Homo sapiens: one gene and its partners. The gene in region 1 interacts genetically with each later gene. Each region holds a gene or a part of one and is shown in the gene's direction. Other genes may lie near its edges. The genes, in order: DCAF7, PPP2R1A, SSB, SEC24C, CARM1, SEC24A and SEC24B.

What was found.
Region 2: changes in DCAF7 (region 1) and PPP2R1A together harm fitness more than expected from each alone (negative genetic interaction), as found in Homo sapiens cells (one large-scale study listed by BioGRID).
Region 3: changes in DCAF7 (region 1) and SSB together harm fitness more than expected from each alone (negative genetic interaction), as found in Homo sapiens cells (one large-scale study listed by BioGRID).
Region 4: changes in DCAF7 (region 1) and SEC24C together harm fitness less than expected from each alone (positive genetic interaction), as found in Homo sapiens cells (one large-scale study listed by BioGRID).
Region 5: changes in DCAF7 (region 1) and CARM1 together harm fitness less than expected from each alone (positive genetic interaction), as found in Homo sapiens cells (one large-scale study listed by BioGRID).
Region 6: changes in DCAF7 (region 1) and SEC24A together harm fitness more than expected from each alone (negative genetic interaction), as found in Homo sapiens cells (one large-scale study listed by BioGRID).
Region 7: changes in DCAF7 (region 1) and SEC24B together harm fitness more than expected from each alone (negative genetic interaction), as found in Homo sapiens cells (one large-scale study listed by BioGRID).

The regions. Positions count from the first base shown.
Region 1 is NC_000017.11:63,553,477-63,556,976, forward strand, and holds part of DCAF7 (DDB1- and CUL4-associated factor 7), read left to right. Parts: intron 1-3,500. UniProt on the Homo sapiens protein: Involved in craniofacial development. Acts upstream of the EDN1 pathway and is required for formation of the upper jaw equivalent, the palatoquadrate. The activity required for EDN1 pathway function differs between the first and second arches.
Region 2 is NC_000019.10:52,193,052-52,196,551, forward strand, and holds part of PPP2R1A (serine/threonine-protein phosphatase 2A 65 kDa regulatory subunit A alpha isoform), read left to right. Parts: intron 1-3,500. UniProt on the Homo sapiens protein: The PR65 subunit of protein phosphatase 2A serves as a scaffolding molecule to coordinate the assembly of the catalytic subunit and a variable regulatory B subunit.
Region 3 is NC_000002.12:169,801,871-169,805,370, forward strand, and holds part of SSB (lupus La protein), read left to right. Parts: intron 1-3,500. UniProt on the Homo sapiens protein: Binds to the 3' poly(U) terminus of nascent RNA polymerase III transcripts, protecting them from exonuclease digestion and facilitating their folding and maturation.
Region 4 is NC_000010.11:73,764,872-73,768,371, forward strand, and holds part of SEC24C (protein transport protein Sec24C), read left to right. Parts: intron 1-579; coding exon 580-718; intron 719-928; coding exon 929-1,044; intron 1,045-1,214; coding exon 1,215-1,339; intron 1,340-1,478; coding exon 1,479-1,670; intron 1,671-1,888; coding exon 1,889-1,982; intron 1,983-2,182; coding exon 2,183-2,299; intron 2,300-2,965; coding exon 2,966-3,136; intron 3,137-3,500. UniProt on the Homo sapiens protein: Component of the coat protein complex II (COPII) which promotes the formation of transport vesicles from the endoplasmic reticulum (ER).
Region 5 is NC_000019.10:10,902,553-10,906,052, forward strand, and holds part of CARM1 (histone-arginine methyltransferase CARM1), read left to right. Parts: intron 1-2,398; coding exon 2,399-2,524; intron 2,525-3,500. UniProt on the Homo sapiens protein: Methylates (mono- and asymmetric dimethylation) the guanidino nitrogens of arginyl residues in several proteins involved in DNA packaging, transcription regulation, pre-mRNA splicing, and mRNA stability.
Region 6 is NC_000005.10:134,651,785-134,655,284, forward strand, and holds part of SEC24A (protein transport protein Sec24A), read left to right. Parts: intron 1-3,500. UniProt on the Homo sapiens protein: Component of the coat protein complex II (COPII) which promotes the formation of transport vesicles from the endoplasmic reticulum (ER).
Region 7 is NC_000004.12:109,432,384-109,436,614, forward strand, and holds the start of SEC24B (protein transport protein Sec24B), read left to right. Parts: upstream 1-1,431; 5' UTR 1,432-1,486; coding exon 1,487-1,619; intron 1,620-4,231. UniProt on the Homo sapiens protein: Component of the coat protein complex II (COPII) which promotes the formation of transport vesicles from the endoplasmic reticulum (ER).

The DNA.
Region 1 (3,500 bases):
CCTGCCTTAAAGTGATTCTCAGGCTAAGTTTGTGAGAAACCCTGCCAAAGAGGTGGTCGACTTCATAATTTGGAGGAACTTTAGAATTATTGGTTGGAATTTTTAGACCATTGGTTCCTGCTTGCCATGGATAGTGGTCACCAGCAGAGGATAAAGTAAAATGGACACAGCAAATTAACACTGATGAAAAAGGCTAGAAGTGGTCATCTTTTTAGTGTGGAGACATTCACTAAGAAAACATGGTTGTAATTTTTAAAAATTTGCATTAGCATAATCATGTTTTCCTAACGTAAAATTGTACCTAGTTGATCCATAGAATTAAGTCTATCAACAGTTTAAGAAATTGACTTCCAGGTGTTCCTTCATGTGAATAAATTTGGGAATTGTTGCAGAGTAAAGAAACAGATTCTATCAACTACACTTGGAATAAAAAGCCCCATTATAGGGCTGGGCGTGGTGGCTCACACCTGTAATCTTAGCACTTTGGGAGGCTGAGATGGGAGAATCGCTTGAGCCCGGGAGTTTGATACCAACCTGGGCAACATGGAGAAACCCTGACTCTACAAAAACATTAAAAAATTAGCCAGGTATGGTGGCATCTGCCTGTAGTACCAGCTACTTGGGAAGCTGAGGTAGGAGGATGCTTTAAGCTCAGGAGGCAGAGGTTATAGTGAGCCAAGATCACGCCACTGCACTCCAGCCTGGGCGACAGAGCCAGACCCTGTCTCAAAAAACAGCCTCATTATTGGTTATTATGTTTCTACCTTCTTTTGTTGTGGTCTCTTGAGGGATACAGCAAGATTGGTGTTGGAGCAACAGGTTCTCTAAATTTTAGTGTGTGAGAATCCTGAGGGAGCTGCACATTCCTGGGCTCCACCCCTGAAGTTAACAGACTTGGAGATAGGTGACAGACACACTAGTGGTTGAGTGGTCCAGATGGCACTCTCAGAACATGGCCCTGGAGCTGCCTTGGCATCTGTTGGCCAGAGGCGAGAATGTGATCTTTTTGTGTCTGCATGCTCCTAAACATTGGTTCTGCCCTTCCATCCAAGTTCACCCATGAAAAAAGCTCTGTGATTAGCCTGGGTTATCTAAGTCCTGCCACTTCCCAGTTTTGTATTGCCTTGGGCAAGTTATCCTCTGTGTCTCAGTTTCATCATCTGTAAAATTAGGGCAATAAATAATAACATCTACCTTGTTCAAAGATTAAATGAGTTAATATATGTAATGGACTTAGGAACGCCACCCGGTGTGGAATAAGCCATATAGAGATGTTAGCTGTTATTTAATTATTATCATTACTGTACCTGTAATTGAAATATAACCAAAGAGAATTATATGGCTGTTTAGTAAATTTACTTTTGTATTTTCCAGAAAGGATTCAGGAATAAGAGGTCAGAAAGGTAGCTGAAAAGGTCATTATTTCATTCTCTGCCTTTTAAAGACTCTGGGGGGAAAATTCCCTTATCTCTTTCAACCCAACTCATTTTGTAGTCTAGCAGATTCTTATAGTCAGACTCCAAGTAGTGTAATTTTCTAGTTTAAATCCATTTTCTCTTGTTCTACCTGGCTTACCTACGTAAGTCAGATATAAGAATTTGGCATTTCTCCTGTGTTTTGACAATATGTTTGGTCTTTAGGCCCAGGTGTTATTTCCCCTCTTTTATTGGGAAAAGCTGGGTAGCAGTTCCTGGGCTTCTGTTCCACTTAAGTGCATGTTTCAGGGTTGGTTTTGATAAAGATGGCAGTGTGATTGGGATTTAGTTTGCCCCAGTATTTAACTGACTACTTGTGCTCTAAGATTTGGCATCCAGAGAGTATTTTTGAGGTTCTGAGGAGAGACTGTAGGTATATCTGATGCTTTTTGGAGAATCCTAGTAGTGAGTCTGGGTGGCATGACCACCTTGTACTTGAAACACTGGGATGGGTACTCACCTCACCAGCCTGTGTTGATTCCTCTGAGGTTTTTAATACAATTACTTTATATGTTTGATGCATAATTATTTCGACTCCGGTATTTAATTTTTCATCTTGGTATTTGCGGTAGCCCTTCAGGATTATCATTCATTTGCTCATTAATTTAGCCGGTCTGTATTGAACACATACTCATGTGTTTTAGGCACAATGTGTTTTGGTACACATCAGTACTTTTGATAGATATTTAGAATGTCGCAGTGTTCCACGAGTCCCTGTCAAGACTGTCAGCAGGGGAATTTAAGACATAAAACTCTTCTGGTTTTAACTTCCTCCTTTTTCTAGACAGTGAGAGGACTCATTCCCTGTTGTGACCACTGGATAAAAGTGATAATGCTTTAAAAAAAAATGCTACTTTATTGCTTTTTGTCCTAATCTTGTTCACATAGACTTATTGGAGATGCTGTCACTTGAACAAGGAGTGAATCTATGCTCTGTAGGTAGCCTGGCTTGCCTAAGGACTTGCTGCCAAAGCTCTCGCTGCCAGAGCTCTCTGGTCAGCCTCTGAGCCACGAGCCAAAGGTGTGCTGTGCCAGAATTCATCTTAAAGTTTAATAGGGCAGGACCTTGGGTACCTGCAGACACTGGTCCTTGGTAATCAGTCAGGAAGAGGCTTGAAGAGAAAGCAAATAGAAAAGACCAGGAAAAGCTAGTGTATATTCTCAGAATATTGTGTTAGCCGATTTTTGTTTTATTAACAATTGTGGGAAAATGTTCCAGTGACTGGAGTGTTATGTTGATTTGGATAACTTGGGAGCTTATTTTAAAAATTACATATACATACACACATTCACCTTCTTCTTCTGCACTAGGACTGTGTGTGTTAAAGTGGAATATGGCCAGGCGCAGTGGCTCATGCCTGTAATCCCTGCACTTTGGGAGGTGGATGCAGGCAGATCACCTGAGGTCGGGAGTTCAAGACCAGCCTGACCAACATGGAGAAACCCTGTCTCTACTAAAAATACAAAATTAGCCAGACATGGTGGCACATGCCTGTAATCCTAGCTACTTGGGAGGCTGAGGCAGGAGAATAGTTTGAACCTGGGAGGCAGAAGTTGCAGTGAACGGAGATTGTGCCACTGCACTCCAGCCTAGGCAACAGAGCAAGACTGTTTCAAAAAGAAAAAATAAATCAGGGCCGGGCGCAGTGGCTCATGCCTGTAATCCCAGCACTTTGGGAGGCTGAGGCTGGCGGATCACGAGGTCAGGAGTTTGAGACCAGCCTGACCAACATGGTGAAACCCCGGCTCTACTAAAAATATAAAAATTAGCCAGATGTGGTGGTGCGTGCCTGTAATCCAAGCTACTTGGGAGGCTGAGGCAGGAGAATCACTTGAACCTGGGAGGCGGAGGTGTGGTGAGCCAAGATTGTGCCACTGCACCAGCCTGGGTGACAGAGTGAAACTCCATCTCAAAAGAAAAAACAAATTAGCTGGGAGTGGTAGCATGCACCTGTAGTCCCAGCTACTCAGGAGGCTGAGATGGAAGGATCACTTGAGCCCAGGAGGTCAAGGCTGCAGTGAGCC
Region 2 (3,500 bases), on another chromosome or scaffold:
ATGTTAGGTACAGTACAGAGGAATATCACTGACGATCTTACTGAATTCTCACAATCACTCTTTGAAGTAGGTCCTGTCCTTGTCCACATTTTCCAGATGAGGAAACTGAAGCACCATAAATAACATGGCCAAAGCTGTGCAGCTGAGAAATGAAGGAGCCAGGAAAGGAAGTAGGACCTAAGGGTGGAATAGAATCTGGGGTGGGACACACGGTTGCTGATTATATTCATATGCCAGACATTTTAATTGTGTCTGAGACAGTTCAGGATACTAGAAGGAACATGGGACATGAAATCCTGTAGTCTTGATTTATTTGTTCAGCAAATATTTATCAGCACCTCCTGTGTGCCAGACTCTGTTTTAGATACTAGACATACAGTAGGGAACAAAACAGCAAAGCTGCCCTTGTGGGGTTTACATTCTGGTTTGGGAGACAGATAGTAGATCTGTAGTGGGATGTCAGTGGCAGTAATTGCTAAGAAGAAAAATTGCTGGACGTGGTGGCTCAAGCCTAATTGTAACACTTTGGTTTTATTTTATTTTATTTTTTTTGAGACAGAGTCTCACTCTGTCGTCCAGGCCGTCTCTGCTCATTGCAACCTCCGCCTCCCGGGTTCAAGTGATTCTCCTGCCTCAGCCTCCTGAGTGGCTAGGATTAGAGGCGCCCACCACCACATCCAGCTAATTTTTGTATTTTTAGTAGAGAGTGGGTTTCACCATGTTGGCCAGGCTGGTCTCAAACTCCCTGCCCGCCTCTGCCTCCCAAAGTGCTGGGATTACAGGCATGAGCCACCACCCCTGGCCAATTCTAGCACTTTGGAAGGCCAAGGTGAAAGGATCGCTTGAGCCCAGGAGTTTAAGACCAGCCTGGGCAACAAAGTGAGACCCTGTCTCTACCAAAAAAAAAAAAAAAATTAGCTGGTGTGATGACACAGGCCTTGGTCCCAGCTGCTCAGGAGACTGAGGTCGGAGGATTGCTTGAACCAGGGAGATCGAGGCTGCGGTGAGAGCCTGGGCGACAGCAAGACCCTGTCTCCAAAAAAAAAAAAAAAAAAAAAAAAGAACAAAATAAGACAGGTACAGGGAATAGAGCAAGCACCTGGGGCTGCTTTGTTAGATAGGGAGGTTAGAGAAAGCTGCTCTGAGGAAGTGATGTTGAACAAGGATTTGAATGAAATGAACAGGTCGTGGAAGAGCAGTCTGGGCAGAGGGAATAGTTGGTACAAAGGCCAGGAGTGGGAGGATGCTTGATGCGTTCAAAGCACAGCAAAAAGGCCAGTGTGACTGAGGCAGAGAGAATGGCAAAGTGGTGGGAGGTGAGGACTAGACCAGGACTAGATCAAGTGAGGCCTGTGGGCCAAGGTGAAGGCCTTGAAGATGGGAGGGAGGAGGAGGAATTGCAAGGCTTTCAGTAGTAATTATGGGTTCTGGTATAATTTTAAAGGATCCTTCCTCTGGCTGTCATAGGGGTTGGGCCCTGTTGAGGTGCCATTACAAAGCACCCAGGACCAGTGTTAGCATGCAGGGGGGAAGTATGGTTACAGTCAGGACATGTTGAGGGGGGCTGATGGGATTTGCTGGTGGGTAATGTAGAGGGAAGAGTTGAGGGTGACTGAAGTTTGAACCCCCGCTCTGCCAGTTGTGCTCTCTGTGTGCCCCTGGAGCAGTACTTTCCCCTCTTTGGACCCAGATTCCTCATCTGCAAAATGGGGATAATGATGAAGAATCAGCGTGTGCCTGGTTGTGAAGATGCAGTGAAATTGGCTTGCTCATTGTTCTGCGGTAGTCATATGGTGGGGATTGAGCAGACCTGAGGAAATGGGGCATCTGGGGAACCGTGTGGGACCAAGTCAGCAAGTGCTAAAGCCTGGGTTGGGAATACACTGGGCTGTTTGTTTTTTTGGTTACTATCAAGGAAGCAGTTGTGACAAGCCAGGCCCAGTGAGAATGGATCAGTAGACTAGGGTCAGATTGTGTTGGGCCTTGTAGGCCAGAGTAAGGCCTTAGCTTTTATTCTGAATGTGCAGGGAAAACATACTACATGTGGGATTATACCATATACATTCATATTATGGAAGGCTCCATGGGTTGAATGCAGGGTGGATCTTCAAAAGTGGGTCCCCTTTCCACAGGTGCATATAGTGGGAAGGCGGATTTTATTTATTAACTCACCACAGAGCAGGCTCTGTGCCGAGGCCTGCTGGGACACAGAGAGTCCCAGTCTAGGGTGGTAAGTGCTGTCATGGAACCATATGGGTGGACTCTTTGGAAAATCCCAATTCCTATTCTCTCACTTAACACAACAATCAACAACACAGAAGAAGACTTCCGTGACTAAATGTGTGTTGGGGTGGGGAGGGATTCTTCACCACCACTAAGCAAGCATTCAGTTCTGCAGCACACGCCAACTGGATGTCCTCCAATTCAGTTCAGACACGACCTGGAGACAGTGTTGGATCCAACAGGTTGAGGGCTCAGGCCTCAAAACTGCCCCTTGGCCCTCGCCTTCAGTTGCCATTCTGGGTCGTCAGAACTTCTGATCTACCTGCTTCAAGTTGGAGTTCCCATGACCACCCTGCCTTTGGGTTTGATTAATATGCTAGAGCAGCTCTCAGAACTCAGGGAAACATGTAAGTTTATCAGTTCATTATAAAGGATAGTATAAAGAATACAGATGAAGAGAGGCATAGGGTGAGCTATGGGGGAAGGGGTGTGGAGCTTCCATGCCCTTCTTGGGTGCACCACCCTCCAGGAACCTCTGTGTGTTCGGCTATGTTGAAGTTCCCAGGCCCTGTCCTTTTGGGTTTTTATAAAGGCATTGTTAGGTAGGCAGGATTGATTAAACCTGGTGATCACCTTGACCTTCAGCCCCTCTCCGATCCCTGGAGGTTGTGGGGTGGGACTGAAAATCCCAACCCTCTAATCATGCCTCTCTGTTTTCCATGACTATCTTTCCAGTGACCATGGACCCCATCCTGAAGGTATCAGTCAACATTAGCATACAAAAAGCGCCTTGGAGATTCCAAAGATTTGAGGAGTTGTATGCAAGGAAATGGGGATGAAGCCCAAATCTGTATCTCACAGTATCACAACTGTAGCAGGTGCTTGGTGGGGACACACTTGGGAGATAGTCAGTGCACAGGGAATTCTCAGGATATGACATGATCAATGGCCAGTCAAGGTTTCTGAAATGATATTAATAGATTTTCTATCAGGAATGTGACGGAGACCCCAACCTAGAGTTGTTTAAACAAGTAAGAGTTCTCTTTATTTCTCATATAGCAAGTTCAGCAGCTCAAAGCTATCACAGAATTGGGTCAGCTCAAAGATATCACAGAAATGCGGTTTTTTTGACTGGCCTGTTTTGGTTATAAGATTCCAGCAGCATCTGCTGTCCTAGTGGAACTGCACTTTTTAGTGCAGTTTAGCAGAGGCCAGCTTAGGACACAGAGGTTCTTTCCCTCCTCCCTTTTATGAAGGAGGAAAATCTCTCCTGAATC
Region 3 (3,500 bases), on another chromosome or scaffold:
TAGCATTTTTTCAAATTTAGGTATTATGTTTATGTTAACGTAATACCTCAAGTGATCCGTAGTACCTTTGCAGTACTGATGCAGGAGGATGGCTTGAGTCCAGGAGTTAGAGACCAGCCTGGGCAACATGATGAGGCCCCATCTCTACAAAAAAATTTTAAAAATTAGCTGAGTGTGTTAGCAGTTTACCTGTAGTCCTAGCTACTTGGGAAGCTGAGGTGGGAGGATTGATGGAGCCCAGAAGGTAGAGGCTGCAGTGGCTGTGATCATACCACTGCACTCCAGCCTGGATGACAGAGCGAGACACTGTTTCAGGGGGCGAGGGGAAGAAACTTGAGAGTCTTCGTGAGCATACTCTGGCTGGGGAGGCTGCCTGATTTGCAAATCGTTCTTTGTTCAATTAAACTCAAAAAGAAAAAAACCTTAAAATCTTTACAATATCGATAATGGTTGCATGGGAAATTATCTCTAAACTTAGGTTCTTGCTAAGAACCCCTCAGATCATATTGTTTGGTGTGGGGTTTTTCTGCAATTCTCAGAACTGCTTTTTTTTTTTTTTTAAGCTGCACGTCTCTGCATTTAAAATGTCTCATGTTCCTTTTTTTGGTATTAATTTCTTTATGACTATGAGGAGAAAAATTAGAAATTATTCATTCTGTGTTTAATACTTAGAACAATACTAAGATGTATATAGAAAAGGTTGTATCTCTCCCACAACCTGCTAACTCTCAAATCCTACTCTTCTGAGGTTATCAAGGTTAAAAGCTTTTGACACTTTGCTTCATGCTCATACTAATTTTTTTAGTGGACCTTATATTTTACAACAGTTCTAGGTTTACAGCAAAATTGAGCAGAAGGTACAGAGATTTTCCATATATCCCCTGCCTCCACACAAGCATAGTGCCTTCACCTTTTAAAACATCCCCCACCAGAGTGGTACATTTCTAACAATTTTATTTCCTTCCCTTTCCCCCGCTAAATATAGGATGCATTTTTGTGGAGAAAAGTTTTGTAATCAATAATCTTTTCATTCTCCTCTTTAATATGAAGGATGTTTCTAATTTTTTTAGCTGTAATCATTCTTTGACAAATATTCTTATATATAAATCTTAGTAAACATGTTTATTGATTTCTTCAAGGAAAATTCTTAGAAGGAGCCATACTGGCTCAAGGATTATGCACATTTAAAAAACACTGATAATTGTCAGTTTACATCTACCTGAATGGCTAGTTCTCTGTGTTCAAGTCAATACTAGGTAGTCTTGGTTTTCTTTCTAATCTTAGCCAGTTTGTTAGGTGAAAAATGCTGTCTCGTTGCTTTAAATTGTATTTCTTTGATTAACAATGAAATGAGGTTGGATTTTTTTTTTAGTTTACAGTACATTATTTATTTATTTATTTTTTGTGATGGAGTCTCACTCTTGTCTCCCAGGCTGGAGTGCAGAGTGCAGTGGCGTGATCTTGGCTCACCACAACCTCCACCTTCCAGGTTCCTCAGCTTCCCAAGTAGCTAGGATTATAGGTGCACACCACCATGCCCGGCTAATTTTTGTATTTTTAGTGGAGACGGGGTTTCACCATGTTGGTCAGGCTGGTTTCGAACTCCTGACCTCGGGTGATCCACCTGCTTCGGCCACCCAAAGTGCTGGGATTACAGGCATGAGCTATTGCGCTTGGCCTATTTTTTATAATTTTTAAAAAAATCATTAGCTGGGCATGGTGGCATGTGCTTGTCGTCCTAGTTACTTGGAAGGCTGAGGAGGAAGATCAATTGAGCCCGGGAGTTTCAGGCTGCAGTGAGCTGTGGTTGCACCACTGCATTCCAGTCTGGGCAACAAAGCAAGACCCGATCCCTGAAAAATAGTGTCTTTTTTTTTTTTAAGACAGAGAGACAGTATTGCTCTCCTCTCAGGCTGGAGTACAGTGGCGGTGATCTCAGCTCACTGCAACCTCCACCTCCCGGGTTCAAGCTAGTCTTGTGCCTCAGCCATCCGAGTAGTTGGGATTACAGGCGTGCACCACCATGTGTGGCTAATTTTTGTATTTTTAGTAGAGTCAGGGTTTCACCACTTTGGCCAGTCTGTTGTCGAACTTCTGGCCTCAAGAAATTGACCCGCCTCAGCCTCCCAAAGTGCTGGGATTATGGGCTTGGGCCACCGTGCGAGGCCAATAAAATATCCTTTAACTGTTTTCTATTAGGGTGTTCTCTTTTTACCCTTCTTCTTTGTTTGTAAGAATTCTTGACAAAATTTGTTTGTCTTTTACTTTTTATGTTACTTCTGGCATTCCAAATAGTCATACTTGGGTTTTTCCTTGGCTTGTATATTGAGAGTTCCTCTATGCTTAAATTTGAGAAACATTTACTTTAACTTTTTTTTTTTTTTTTTTTTTTGAGGCAGCGTCTTACTTTGTTGCCCAGGCTGGAGTACAGTGGCACAATTATGCCTCACTGCAGCTTCAACCTGCCAGGCTTAAGCAATCCTCCCACTTCAGCTTCCTGAGCTGGGACTAGAGGCACGTACCTCTATTTCTTATTTATTTTATTTATTTATTTATTTTTTGGAGAGCTGGGGTCTTGCCATGTTGCCCAGGCTGGTCTTGAACTCCTAGACTCAAGCAATGCACCCACCTCAGCCTCCTAAAGTGCTGGGATTAGGCATGAACCACCACTCCTGGCCCCCCACCCCCTTTTTTGAGATGGAGTCTCACTCTTTTGTCAGGCTGGAATGCAGTGGCACAATCTTGGCTCACTGCAGCCTCTGCCTCCCGGTTTCAAATGATTCTTCTGCCCCAGCCCCCTGAGTAGCTGGGACTACAGGTGTGTGCCACTATGTGCAGCTAATTTTTGTATTTTTAGTAGAGACGGGGTTTGACCATGTCGGCCAGGGTGGTCTCAATCTCTTGACCTCCCAAAGTGCAGGGATTACAGGCGTGCGGCACCGTGCCTGGCCCCGTCCCTTATTTTTTAATTTTAAAAAATTAGAAGGGCAGGTGTGGTGGCTCATGCCTGCAATCCCAGCACTTTGGGAGGCCGAGGTGGGCAGATCGCTTGAGATCAGGAGTTCAAGGCCAACATGGTAAAACCCTGTCTCTACTAAAAATAACAAAAATTCGCTGGGCGTGGTGGTACATGCCTGTAATCCCAGCTACTCAGGAGGCTGAGGCAGGAGAATCACTTGAACCTGGGAAGCGGAGGTTGCGGCAAGCTGAGTTCATGCCACTGCACTCCAGCCTGAGCGACAGAGTAAGACTCTGTCTCAAAAAAAAATAAGAATTGAGTGATTAACCAATTTCTTCCAGTTCTTTTTATTTAACCATCTGTTCTTTCCACACTGATTTGCAAGAGCCTTTTCATATAATCTTTAAATATATTCTTCTTTAAGGTTTTCTAGTCTATTGACACATCTGTTACACTATTTTAGTAATTGACATTTTAGTTTTATCTTTTTGCTAATTTGTAAACATTATTGTATATTTGGGGAAAGTGTTTTGCCTTTTGT
Region 4 (3,500 bases), on another chromosome or scaffold:
CAAAGGCTCAGTTTATATTCTGCTTATCTCTCCGTCTTTCTCTGTGTGTTTGTCTATTTCTATCTGGGTCCCATTGGGGATAGTTGGGCACTGGTCTCTTATGTGTAGGGTGACATTTGCCTGGGGCATCAGTAACTGGCACAGAATCCCAGGGATACGGGAGGAGGTGTTACAGATATTTGGTTAGGGAAGGAGCTGGAATCAAGATTCTTAGAGCAAGAGTGAAGGGCATTAGAGATGGGGCCAGAAAGGAGAATCCTAGATAATCTTGGCTTTCTCCCTCATATGCCCATGGCAGCCCCTAGTCTGATATGGCCGGTTTTGCATTTCCTCTTCTCTTTCAGTGAGAAATGCAGCTCTGGGGGTGGGATGTAGGAAGAGGGAACTATATAATTTTTACTCATAGGGACATTTTCCTGTGATTTGTCTTTACTCCCTTTCATCATTGTGCTCCCTACTCCCTCTGCAGACAGAATATCTGCGCCATGCGCCTTCTTCCTCCGGTTGTTCTTCCTCATCTCCTGGCTGAACCTACTGTGGTTTTCCTTTATGTCTGATCCCTTCCCCTTTGCGCCTTAGGCTTCACCGTATGTTGTGGACCATGGGGAATCTGGCCCTTTGCGCTGCAACCGCTGCAAAGCATACATGTGTCCCTTCATGCAGTTCATTGAAGGAGGGAGGCGTTTCCAGTGCTGTTTTTGCAGCTGTATCAATGATGGTATGTTCATGGAAGCTGGGATTTGGGGGAAGGTCTTGATTGTATCTTCCTTGTTCTCTATTAAATAGTTAGAGAGATGAGGGTCCATCTTTCAGGAGCTGGGGAAGTAGGGCACATGGGAATGAGGGATAGTGGTGTGAGCTCAGCTAGGGCCAGAATACTAAGATTGAAACTGGATCTTCGAGTAACACACTGCCATGCTTCCCACAGTTCCCCCCCAGTATTTTCAGCACCTGGATCATACCGGCAAACGTGTGGATGCTTATGACCGCCCTGAGCTATCCCTGGGCTCTTATGAATTCTTGGCCACTGTAGATTACTGCAAGGTGAGGGAAGGTAGCATGGGAGGAGCAGTGAGTGGAGGATAATGAGACAGCTGAGAATGGCTGTTATCATTTCCCTCACCCCTTTTTTGTCCCTTTTTGATGCTGACTTCTCTATAGTCAACTGGCCTGCTTACCATTCCCCCTCTCCCCAACATTTTCTTCCTCTGCAGAACAATAAGTTCCCCAGCCCTCCTGCCTTTATCTTCATGATTGACGTCTCCTACAATGCCATCAGGACTGGTCTTGTTAGGCTCCTCTGTGAGGAGCTCAAGTCACTGTTAGACTTTCTACCTAGGTGAGAGTTACAGAACTGAGGTGTTTCCTGAGGTTAATGATAGGGTGTCTGGGTTGACTGAAGAAATGTAGCTTGGTGTCATGAAGTTGTGGGTGGTGGAAAAGGTGGCAAGTCTAGGTAACAATGTCACCTTCTACAGGGAGGGTGGGGCAGAAGAGTCAGCAATCCGCGTTGGCTTTGTCACCTACAATAAGGTGCTCCACTTCTATAATGTGAAGAGCTCATTGGCCCAGCCACAGATGATGGTTGTGTCTGATGTGGCTGACATGTTTGTGCCACTGCTGGATGGCTTCCTGGTCAACGTCAATGAGTCTCGGGCAGTTATCACCAGGTAAGAGCCAGATTGTGGAGGTAAAGGTTGGGGGTGGCATGGGTACCACCATAGAAGGTCATGGAGTTGAACAGAGGTATTGGACAGTAGATGGAAAGGGGTTGTGGCCCAGGAGTTGTCAGATTCTAGAGGCTTGATGACTCTTCAGGGAATCGAGAACTGAGGTATCTGGAATCTGTATAGCAATTTTGGTTGTTTTCCGTCACCTATCTCTTTAGCTTATTGGATCAGATTCCAGAAATGTTTGCAGACACAAGGGAAACAGAGACAGTATTTGTACCAGTTATCCAGGCTGGAATGGAGGCTCTGAAGGTAAGGCTGGAGTATCGGGCAACCTCCTCTAACTCCATTTTCCTCTGACCATCTTATCCCCTGGGATACAACCTCTCTTTCTTCAGTAGTGGGTGACTGTCCAGTGTGTTAGACTGTCTGACATAGCTGGTGCTTAATAAATGACAAGGGAAGAGATGGATGAATAAAGAATAAACAAGTAGTCCTCTCTTTTTTCCTAGGCTGCTGAGTGTGCAGGGAAGCTCTTTCTATTCCATACATCCCTGCCCATTGCAGAGGCCCCAGGGAAACTGAAGAACAGAGATGACAGGAAGCTGATCAATACAGACAAGGAGAAGGTGTGGGACTGGAAAATGGGGGAGGGGAAGGATTTTTCATTACAGAGGAAGTGGGGACTCTACTTTCTTGATGGTGGCTAGGACCAGACACTCCACCCTTTCAAATACCATATCTGTGACTGCCAACCTCCACTGCTGCCATACTTCTCTACTCCATCTGATGCCAAAGCTGTTGGTAGACTCTTGTATTTATTTATTTTTTAAAGAAGAACTTTTGGCCGGGCATGATGGCTCATGCCTGTAATCCGAGCGCTTTGGGAGGCCAAGGCGGGCAGATTTTTGAGGCCAGAAGTTTGAGACCAGCCTGACTAACATGGCAAAACCCCGTCTCTACTAAAAATACAAAAATTAGCCAGGTGTGGTGGCACACACCTGTAATCCCAGCTACTTGGGAGTCTGAGGCAGGAGAATCGCTTGAACCTGGGAGGCAGAGGTTGCAGTGAGCTGAGATCATGCCACTCTATGCCAGCCTGGGTGACAGAGTGAGACCCTGTCTCAAAAAAATAAAAATAATATAAAAGAAAATTTTTTACTATTGGAAAATCCTTGGAAGTAGATCTGAAGTCTTCCATGAATTTGAATATCCCATGCTAGATATACAGTTTTCAAATAGGGCGGAGCTGAGATATTTGAACATTTTCTTCTCCCCATTTTCTTTCCCCCTAGACTCTGTTCCAGCCTCAGACAGGTGCCTATCAGACCCTGGCCAAAGAGTGTGTGGCCCAAGGCTGCTGTGTAGATCTCTTTCTCTTCCCTAACCAGTATGTGGATGTGGCCACACTCTCTGTTGTGCCCCAGCTCACTGGTGGCTCTGTCTACAAATATGCTTCCTTTCAGGTATGGTGTGGGATTTGGGGCAGCAGGTGGCAGCAGGGCTGGGAATATCTGCTTATATATGCAGTGGCTGACTCATTAATAGAAATAGTGTTGGGGCCAGGCACGGTGCCTCACACCTGTAATCCTAGCACTTTGGGAGGCTGAGGCAGGCAGATCACCTGAGGTCAGGAGTTCAAGACCAGCCTGGCCAACATGGCAAAACCCCATCTCTACGAAAAATACAAAAATTAGTCGGGTGTGGTGGCGGGCGCCTGTAATCCCAGCTACTCAGGAAGCTAAGAATCCCTTGAACCCGGGAGGTGGAGGTTGTGGTGAGCCGAGATTGCGCCACTGCACTCCAGCCAGAGCGACAGAGTAAGACTCC
Region 5 (3,500 bases), on another chromosome or scaffold:
CCCATCTTGCCCTCCCAAAGTGCTGGGATTACAGGCGTGAGCCACTGTGCCCAGACTTTTTTTTTTTTTTTTTGAGACATGCTCTTATTCTTGTCACCCAGGCTAGAGTGCAGCGTTGCCATCTCTGCTCACTGCAGTGTCAACTTCCTGGGCTCAGGTGATTCTCCCACCTCAGCCTCCCAAGTAATTGGGACTACAGGCGCATGCCACTACACCGACTAATATTTTTATATTTTTAGTAGAGACGGGATTTCACCATGTTGCCCAGGCTGGTCTCAAACTCCTGGGTTCTAGTAATCTGCCTGACTCCCAAAGTACTGGGATTACAGGTGTCAGCCACCATGCCTGACCCTAAAATAGTTTTTTATATATTCTGGACACTAAATACTTAACAATAGATGATTTGCAAATAGTTCTCCTAAGAGTTTTCTTGTTTTAGCTCTTATATTTAGGTCATTGCTCCATTTGAGTTCTGTTTTGTTTGTATATGGTGTGAGGTAGGGGTTTAACTTCATTCTTTTCTCTGTGGTTATCCAGTTTTCTCAACAGTGTTTGTTGAAGACACTATTCTTTCCCCATTGAATGTTCTTGGCATCCTTATCAAAAATCAATTGAGGATAAGTATAAGGGTTTATTTCTGGACTCTGATTCTGTTCCATTGATCTGTGTCTCCTTTCTTTTGCCAGTACCACTACACTGTTTTCATTACTGTACCTTCGTAGTAAAATTTGAAATTGAGACATGGGAATCCTCCAACTTCATTCTTTTTCAAGACTGTTTTGGCTATTCAGGGTGATTGAGAACACTTTGCCATATTTGCACTCATGTTGTTGTTGTTATGATGGGCTATTCAAAAGCAAGCTACTGACATCATGGGAATTTGCCATAAATACTTCCGCATATGTTTTCTAAGAAAATATGCATTTCTCTACAAAACCACAATACCATTGTCACATCCAAATAACTTAAAATTATGGAATATGTAGTCCACACTCACATTTCCCTAGTTGTCTTTTTTTTTTTTTTTAATAGGATCTCACGTCTGTTGCCTAGACTAGAGTGCAGTGGCACCATCATACCTCACTACAGCCTCAACCTCCTGGGCTCAAGCGATCCTCCCACCTCAGCCTCCCAAGTAGCTAGGACCACAGGTGTGAGCCACTCTGTCCAGCTCCCCAGTTGTCCTTTATTTATTTTTTTGAGACAAGGTCTTGCTCTGTCACCCAGGCTGGAATGCAGTGGCACAGTCATGACTCACTGTAGCCTCAGCCTCCTGAGTCCCTAAGACAACAGGCGCATGCCACCATGCCTGCCTAATTTTTAAATTTTTTTGTAGAGATGGGGTCTTGCTATGCTGCCCAGGCTGATCTCCAGCTCCTGGGTTCAAGTGATCCTCCTGCCTTGGCCTCCCAAAGTGCTGGGATTAGAGGTGTGGGCCCAGCCTCCCCAGTTGTCCTGTATAACTTTTAAAAACATTTTTCGTTTGGCTCCAGCCCAGGGTCCCACTTTGCATTGCATTGGGCACTCCCCTCTTTCTTGTCTCCTGCACTCTGGAATAGCTCCCACCGTTTTGGTCTTTCCTGACATTGGCCTGTTCAAGGAGACCAGGCTGGTTGTCCTGTAGCCTGCCCCACAACTTGTCCTTTTCTGTTGTCCCTTGAAGATGAGACTAGGGCAAACATTTTTGCCAAGAATACTACAGATGATGCACCTGTCCCACTGCAGTATGGCAGGCAGGGGCACAGTGCCTGATTGGGCTGGCCCGTTCCTGGCATCGCTAAGTTTCACCATTTGGCTGGAGTGGAGTGGCTGCAGGTTTGTGGAATGAATGACTGGTAACAGCTATCATGATGGGTACAGGGAGACAGTGTCCTAATTCACTAGACCACTGCCCCGCCATTAGCCCCATCTGATGGTGAGAACCCCAGTTCCAGAGAGGCTGAGGGACATGCCTGTGTCACAGTGAACAAATGGCATGGATGGGGTGTGAACCCAGCGGTCTGACTCCACTGGCCACATGCAGTCACTGCTCTGCGCCCATCCAAGAACAGAAGGGCTCAGCCGAGCAGGGCAGAGGCAGCTCCAGCTCTGAGTTCCTGTGGGCCAGCACCATGCCTTGTGGCCCTGTCTGCCCACCTCAGCCTTCACCATGCCCGTCTCAGCCCTGATCATCCTGAGGACACAGGCTGTGTTCCTGCTGTCTGATCAGTCGCTCCCTTGTCTTCCATGTGGGCTGGGCAGTCAGGGCACCCGGCAATGCTGCCAGGGTGGTTTTGTGGCACTCTGGAAGAATCTGGGGGCACCAAGGGGAGGCAGCAGGAGGGCGACAGGGACCCAGGCTCAAAAGAAGGCAGCTGACAGGGCTGCACCGCTCACGCCAGCCTGTCTTCTCTCGTAGATGAAGATGTGTGTGTCTTTAAGTGCTCAGTGTCCCGAGAGACAGAGTGCAGCCGTGTGGGCAAGCAGTCCTTCATCATCACCCTGGGCTGCAACAGCGTCCTCATCCAGTTCGCCACACCCAACGGTACGTGGCCCTCCTTCCATTCCGGTGACACCAGCCCAAAGCGCCCAGAGCCCTGGTGGGCAGGGGCGTAGAGCCTGGCTGAGGGGTGGCCCGTGCATCCTTAAGAAGGCTCCACTGCCCTCAAAACCACATTCCCACATGCAGGTATGCCCAGAATACACTCTGGCCTGGGCAGACCCTGGATCCCAGACCCTCCCTCACCGGCTCCTCCGGGTCTTTTGGGGCTTGGCTTCTATGTCCCCACCTCCAAGAGGCCCATCCTGACCACCTGGGACCAGTCTTTCTGGCAGTGGCCAGCCCTGGGCCAGCTGTGACTGGGCCAGCTGTGGATGGAGTGAGGCGAGGTCCTAGAGGCAGGAAGAGTTTGCTCAGGGCGCAGAGAAGCCACCAGAAGGGCTTAACCAACCCACCTTGGGGGCACAGGTGGACACAAGATTCCTGACTAGGGGTGGGAGAACCCCAGGTGGATGCAGCCAGGGTAGCAGAGAGGTGTCCAGGAATGCCCAGGGCTGGAGATGGTCTGAAGGTCCCACCGCAGGCTTGGTTACCAGAGACCTGAAGTGAGTCCAGTGGTTGACACAGGTGCTGGTGCGAGGACAGCTGGAGGTGGAGAGGCTGCGTGCCCATGAGCCACTGCCGGCCTCCCCCTTGTCTCAAGGTAGCTGTGCAGTGACCCAGATGTACCTTGGGCAGCCTGAGCCCTCGGGGCCAGCTGTGTGAAGCTGCCATGCCTGGCTAATTTTTTGTAGAGATGGGTTTTCACTGTGTTGCCCAGGCTGGTCTTGAACTCCTGGCCTCAAGTGAGCCACCTGCCTCAGCCTCCCAAAGTGCTGGGATTACAGATGTGAGCCACCGTGCCCGGCCCCTTTTTTTTTTTTTTTTTTTTTTTTGAGAAAGAGTGTCACTCTGTTGCCCAGGCTGGAGTTCAGTGGTGCTATCTTAGCTCACTGCAACCTCCACCTCCCGGGTTCAAGGC
Region 6 (3,500 bases), on another chromosome or scaffold:
CTGCTAATAATACAGAGAGTAGGGATATGGTATCAAGTTGGAGAACAGGATATTTTTCAAGAAGGTGAGAAAACGTTTCAATGCTGGGATCTAGTTTTGCTTAACTATTCCAAAGCAGTAGTTGATGCTTGCATATTCTGTTGAAAACTCTTTTTTTTTTTTTTTTTGATGGAGTTTCACTTTTGTTGCCCAGGCTAGAGTGCAATGGCTCATTGCAACCTCTGCCTCCCAGATTCAAGCAATTCTCCTGCCTCAGCCTCCTGAGCAACTGGGATTACAGGTGCATGCCACCACACCCGGCTAATTTTTGTATTTTTAGTAGAGACAGGGTTTCATCACATTGGTCAGGCTGGTCTCAAACTCCTGACCTCAGGTGATCCGCCCGCGTCGGCCTCCCAAAGTGCTGGGATTACAGGCGTGAGCCACCGCGCCTGGCCGAAAAGTCTTAAGTATTTAATGAAGTTTGCTTAAATTACATATTACAGTATAATTAGATCTTCAGTTTGCTTTTGTTTTTTGTTTTTGAGATAGTCTTTCTCTATTGCCCAGGCTGGAGTGCAGTGGCGTGATCTTGGCTCACTGCAACCTCCATCTCCTGGGTTCAAGCAATTCTGCCTCAGCCTCCTGAGCAACTGGGACTACAGGCATGCGCCACTATGTCTAGCTAATTTTTGTATATTTAGTAGAGACGGGGTTTCGCCACGTTGCCCAGGCTGGTCTCGAACTCCCGAGCTCAGGTGATCCGCCCACCTCGGCCTACTAAAGTGCCGGGATTACAGGCGTGAGCCACTGTGCCTGGCCAGTTTGGTGTTTTTTGTTTTTGAGACGGAGTCTTGCTGTGTTGCCAGGCTGGAGTGCAGTGGTGCGATCTCAGCTCACTGCAACCTCCACCTCCCAGGTTCAAGCGATTCTCCTGCCTCAGCTTCCCGAGTAGCTGGGGTTACAGGCACCTGTAGCACATGCCACCATGCCTGGCTGATTTTGTATTTTGTTTGTTTGTTTTGTTTTGTTTTTGTTTTTGTTTTTTTGAGACGGAGTCTCACTCTGTCACCCATGCTGGAGTGCAGTGGTGCGATCTTGGCTCGCTGCAAGCTCCGCCTCCTGGGTTCATGCCATTCTCTTGCCTCAGCCTCCCGAGTAGCTGGGACAATAGGTGCCCGCCACCACACCCGGCTAATTTTTTGTATTTTTTTTTTTTTTTTAGTAGAGACAGCGTTTCACCATATTAGCTAGGATGGTCTCAATCTCCTGACCTCGTGATCTGCCCGCCTCTGCCTCCCAAAGTGCTGGGATTACAGTTATGAGCCACTGTGCTCGGCCTAATTTTTGTATTTTTAGTGGAGACGGGGTTTCACCATGTTGGCCAGGATGGCCTCTATCTGCTGACCTCATGATCCTCCTGCCTCAGCCTCCCAAAGTGCTGGCATTACAGGTGTGAGCCACCATACCCGTTCCAGTTTCGTTTGTTTGTTTGTTTTTTAAAGAGCCTGGGTCTTGCTCTGTCACCCAAGTTGAAGTGTAGTCACTTGATCATGGCTCACTGCAGCCTCGAACCTCCTGGCTGAAGTGATCCTCCCACGTCAGCCTCCTGTGAAGCTAGGACTACAGGCACATGCCCTGAAACCTGGCTAACTAAACAGTTTTTTTTAGAAAACAGAGCTGCACTCTGTTGCCCAGGATGGTCTTGAACTCCTGGACTCAAGTAATCCTCCTGCCTTGGCCTCCCAAAGAGCTAGGATTACAGGCATGAGCCACAACATCTAGCACAGATATTTTATATATTATAGTCAAAAGACCTCACCAGGTGTGGTGGCTCACACCTGTAATGTCAGCACTTTGGGAGGCCGAGGTGCTAGGATTGTTTTAGCCCAAGAATTCAAGACCACCCTCGGCAACATAGTGAGAACCTGTCTCTACAAAGAATTTTTAAAAAATAGGCATGGTGCGGGCCCAGTAGTCCCAGCTACTGGGGAGGCTGAGACAGGAAGATCACTTGACCCCAGGAGGTCAAGACTGCAGTGAGCTACAATTGCACAACTGCACTACAACCTGGGTGACATGGCAGTATCTTGTCTCAAAAATAAATAAATAGGCCGGGTGCAGTGGCTCACACCTGTAATCCCAGCACTTTGGGAGGCCAAGGCAGGAGGGCTGCTTGAGCCTAGGAGTTCAGACCAGGGTAGGCAACATAGGAAGACCCCATATCTATAAAAAAGTAAGAAAAATTAGTCCAGTGTAGTGGTGCCAGCCTGTGGTCCCAGCTACTCAGGAGGCTGAGGTAGGAGGATCACCTGTGTCCAGGAGGTTAAGGCTGCAATGAGCCATGATCATGCCACTACCCTCTAGCCTGGGCAACAGAGTGAGAACCTGTCACAAAAATAAATAAATTAATAAAAAACAAAAGACCTAACAGTAGCCTTTTTCAAAAAAAAAAAATATATATATATATTTTTTGAGACGGAGTCTCACGCTGTCACCCAGGCTGGAGTGCAGTGGTGCAGATCTTGGCTCACTGCAGCCTCTGCCTCCCGGGTTCAAGTGATTCTCCTGCCTCAGCCTCCCGAGTAGCTGGGACTACAGGCGTGCACCACCATGCTCAGCTAATTTTTGTATATTTAGTAGAGACGGGGTTTCACCATGTTGGACAGGGTGGTCTCAATTTCCTGACCTCGTGATCTGCCTGCCTTGGCCTCCCAAAGTGCTGGGATTACAGGCGTGAGCCACTGCGCCCAGCTGAGAGGTTTTTCTAAGTCTTTGTGTATACATATTTCCTTTGCAAAAATTGATAGCAGACTACAAGACCTTAAACTAATGGATCTTAATCTGATTATCATGTATTAACGCTAAAGGCAAATAATGACTCCCACCATTAATTAGTGCCTTTATTGACTGAATCAACTTGCAAAGCCAGTTAGAAACTGCAGTTTTGTTTTGTTTTGTTTTGGTTTTTCAGAAATGGTCTCACTTTGTCCCCCAGGCTAGAGTACAGTGGTGCAGTCTTGGCTCACTGCAGCCTTAACCTCCATGGTTCAAGCAATCCTCCTGCTTCAGCCCCTGAAGTAGCTGGGATTACAGGTGTGCGTCACCATGCTTGTCTAATTTTTTTGTGTCTTTAGTAGAGATGGGTTTCACCATTTGGCCAGGCTGGTCTCGAACTCCTGACCTCGTGATCCTCCCACCTTGGCCTCCCAAAGTGCTGGGATTACAGGTGTGAACCACTACGCCTGGCCCAGGCTTTCCTAAAGAAACGTACAGCTTTTTGGCCAGGCTGGTCTCAAAATCCTGACCTCAGGTGATCTGCCCGCCTGAGCCAAAGTGCTGAGATTACAGGTGTGAGCCACCGCACCCGGCCACATGAGATTTTTTACTAATGCAGATTCTGGGATCCTTTTGAATCCTATGAAATAGGATTTTACAAAGGTGGGACCTGGGATCTCAATTTGTACCATTATTATAGCAGGTTCCTCTGATTCTGAAGCTGCTGGTTGGGTGGGAAGCAC
Region 7 (4,231 bases), on another chromosome or scaffold:
CCTAGTTATTCCCTTACCCACGTAATTATAGACCTTAATCCAAATTCAAAGGACTCCTGGGAGATGCTGGAATCTGTAATTGTGTAATCTCTTTGATGAAGCACAGAGTGTGATCTTTTGCTCATGTGGGGCTAGGTTTCTGTGGAGAAGCTGGAAATGCTGTGGAAAAGGGCTTGCCCCTTTTGTGTATATGAACTCTAATGTAGTTGAAATTCCTAGAAGTCAAAGATATAAATCTAACTACTAAAATTCATTTAGTGCATTAAAATGCCAGTTATTAATTTACGGCAACAACTAAAGGGAAGCTTTGTATTATTCTAGGACTACAATGCAATTTATGCTTTGCATAATCATTCAGTAAATGACTTATTGCTCCAGAAATACCATCTTGCTAGATCCCATTCTGAATTCAGTGTTTCTGAGCAATCTCATCTCCAATACAGAGTGATGACATACTCAGGATTCCAAGACGGCAAAATGACTTGGGTAATGTAGTCTAGGGCCTGCCAGTGAGTATGCTGAGACAGACCAGAAAGACTTAAAGATTCCACTAATGTAGACAAAGCAAGCTGAGCCACAACTTCTCGGAACACCAACAGGATGCACCAACAATCGACAAAAAAAAAAAAAAAAAAGGAGATAAAGTTTAAAGTTTGTCTTCCAGCATTCCCTTACCCTATTTTCCCCTTCCTCTTCCCTACTTTATCAGTGGGAAAAGTTCTCAATAATGCAATTCTTACTGAGATTCTTGTGTTTATCAGAGAAATGTTTCCTCTTTCTTTGCCAAGGAATTATATATTCCCAACAGACATGGCGCTTGAATGCTATATTTCCTTTGGAATCAAGAAAGGGGAGGTGGGGGAATCAAAAATTAAAAACCAAACCCAAGCCATTGTTCCTCTTCGAGGAAGGGTGGGTGGTCAGTCGTCGCCTGAGCTCCGAACATCAACCCGCGGCTCTCAAGTTCCCCTCCCAGTAATGCTGGGCCCAGCCTCGCCGCGGCCGATCCAGCCTCTGCCCTAGGTGGAAGCGGGCCACCCGGTCCCTTCACCCACTGAGGCCCAGTCCTTTCGCCTCAACACGAAGGCACCTGGCCGGGCCGGAGCAGCAGCCGCGGGGCCGGCACTGGGGCCACGGAACCCCGGGCCAGACTCAGGCCTGGGCCAGCTCGGCTCCGGCCTGCAGGGGGCGCTGCGGCGGCACCGGCGCGAGGCCCGCGCGTGCGGGGAGCGACCCCAGGTGTAAGTCCCGGGGCGTGGGGCGCGTGGGTCAAGGCGGAGCGACCCAGGATCCCCGCGCCCGCGGCGGCCGCCGAGTGGCAGCGCTGGACTCGCGGAGAAGCTTGGGTACCTGAGCCGCGGTCCCGGGTGACACCCTCAGTGACGCCAGGCGCGTTCCTTCCTCTTCCTCTCTCCTCTCCGGCCCCGCCTTCCCTTCCCTCCGCCCACCTCCCTGAAGCGGAGCCGCCGTCGCCACCAGCGCCGTCATGTCGGCCCCCGCCGGGTCCTCTCACCCGGCCGCCAGCGCCCGGATCCCGCCCAAGTTCGGCGGAGCGGCCGTCTCAGGAGCCGCAGCGCCCGCGGGCCCGGGTGCGGGCCCGGCGCCGCACCAGCAGAACGGTGAGGCGGGCGGCCCGGGCGGAGCGCGGGGCCTAGCACCGGCTGGGCGGCCTGCACGGCCACATCGGGGCGGGGCGGGCCGGGCCGGGAAGGGCGTTCGGGGCCAGGCCCGGCCCGAGGGACGGGAGCGGGCGCGGTGCGGAGGCCGCGGGGTCCGGGTTGGGTGCGGGTAGGGGGCAGGGAAGGCACGGCGCGGGGCGCGCGGGGGTGGGACGCCCCTGGCGTGGGGGCGGGGGCCGGCCTGGGAAAGCTGGGGCCGTGGCTGTTTATGTAATGCGACCCCAGGCCCGAAACGGCCTCGGGCGAGTAGGGGCGACTGAAAAGCTGGGAGCCCACGTAGTAAAACCCAGTTACCTAGCCTGGACGCGGGCGAGTTGCCCCGAGCGACCCCTTGGCTGCGAGAGCTGGCCAGAAGCCGAGGCCGCTGAGTGCGTGGTCCGGAGAAGGCTGGTGCAGCCACCCAGCAGGGTGGATTGTGCCCTTCCTGTCTCAGGAAAATTGCTTCGGTTCCCGAGGCCCAGCGAACACGCTGCCTTGAGGAAACTTAAGTTTGCACTCAAGTTTGTAGACAAAAGGGTGTAAATATGCTATATAAGTGTAACTGTAACCCTGACCCAGTTCGGCCTCAAGAACTGTCATTGCCGCTGCGGCTGCTGCTCAAGCTTTTGGAGTTTGCTTGTAGTGTTTGAAAGGGAGCAGATGTAAACGGATTTAAACGAACATCTTTAGATCTGGGTGTTTTTCCTAGCTCCACTTTCAGAGATGAAAAAACGTGCCAGAGTTGGCCCTGCTTTGAGGCAGGGCCTTCATACAGGCAGCAGCCAAATGCAGCACGAAAGCCGCTTTCATATTAAGGTCGTGGGCTTTTAGTAGGCTGCAAAATGATGGATATGCATTCCCTAATGCTGAGATTTGGAATGTTCGCGGATAGGGGCCAAGGGTGGAGGAATTCTCCTTACAGACTTCTTAGTATGTCAGATGAGAACCTTGGAAAGTAATTGACTGAATTTAGAAAAATACCTCTGTCCTGTGTTGGTACGAGAACCAAACTGCATTAGTACTCTCCAGATGATTGACCTGTTTTATCTAATTTCCTAATGAAAATCTGCTGGACTTTATGAATTAGTTTAATCAACATCTAAGTTTTACAACTGATGCTTTTCAAACATGAAGTGTATCGTTTGTCCTGAGGATCAGAAGTTGAGTGATACTTTAGCCTTAATATTCTTTGGATCAGCCTTACCTATCAGTATTACATGCTGTACTCTCAGTAGTCATTGTTTACTATAATCGCTTTTGGATATAAACCTGTTCTGAACAAATGTAAAAATACTATTTGTGAGCAGTGTTTGTTCTTGTAACCTTAATATAAGTTCTTGTTTTTGTTTGTTTTTAAAATAGCTTTATGAAGGAACTAGAACACGATAATTTAGTAAAAGAGCCCAAGTCTTTTAGAACATTGTAGACTCATGTTTACCAGTGATTCAAGGATTGTGTCTTTCCTTGATTTTCTGAATATGCATTATCATCTTAGTGAACAGTTTTTAAAGTGGCAAATGTTTATTACAGCCTTATAAATTTTGTGAACACTCAAGAATGCCAGGATATGTACTCAGCCAAGTGTAATCAGGATGTTAAAATCTGTAAGAACAAATCAATGTTTTGATGCCAAATATAGATGATGCTTGAGTTCTCTTGTTTATAATCACTACTTTCCTTTAATGTTGCAATAATCATTTCAACATTTATTGCATGCTTACCAGTTGGGGACTCAAGGTTAGGGTAGCAGATGAGACAGAGTCCCTGCCTCTCTCCTGACTTGCCCTGTATTTGGTAATGTTTGAATTGGTTCTGGCTAGCCTTGAGGGACTCGACAGGTTGGGGTGGGAGGGAAAGGTTGACTCTAGGCAGAGGTTACAGCATGAACTAAAGTTTGGAAATATGAAAGTGCAGGGCATGCTTGGAAAGTGGAAGGAGTCAAGAGGTGCAGAGGGTGCTGGGTGGCATGGGAAGCCAAGGCATCGAAGCCGAAAGGAGCAGGTTAAAAGGGGTCAGGTTGCAGAAAGGCCTTAAATGTTATGCTAGGAAATTTGAAAGTTATGGTAAAGTGTAAGAACTAGGGTCAGGTAGAGTACGAGGTCTCCCTGTGTTGCCCAGGCTGGTCTGCTGGGCTCAGGTGATCCTCACACCTTATCCTCCAGAAGGATTTTTGTTTTTGTGGAAGGGATTAGTTTAAGTAGAGAAACAAGATTAAATCTCTTTTTGTTTTGTTTGCTAATCTCAAAAAAAAAAAGTTTGCTACGTGGTATCAGCATGTAGTAAGCAGTCATTTGGGTTTCTCATTTATTTTTCAGTCCTACAAAAGTAGTTAGCCTTTTAATATATCTCTATGGAATTCCAGACATGGTGAAAAAGAAATAGGTCAGAAATATGAGCATAAAACAGACAGAATTGTAAAACTGGAATGGTACCTAGAAATCACTCACTTCAGTGTTGTGGTGTGATATGAAATACGTTTGGCCTTTGTCCTGGGTTCCTGTAACAGCTCCTAAAACCCTTGTAATTTCCTGAGTGATAGGAGTGTCGCTTGCTACTCATAAGGAGTCTTTTGA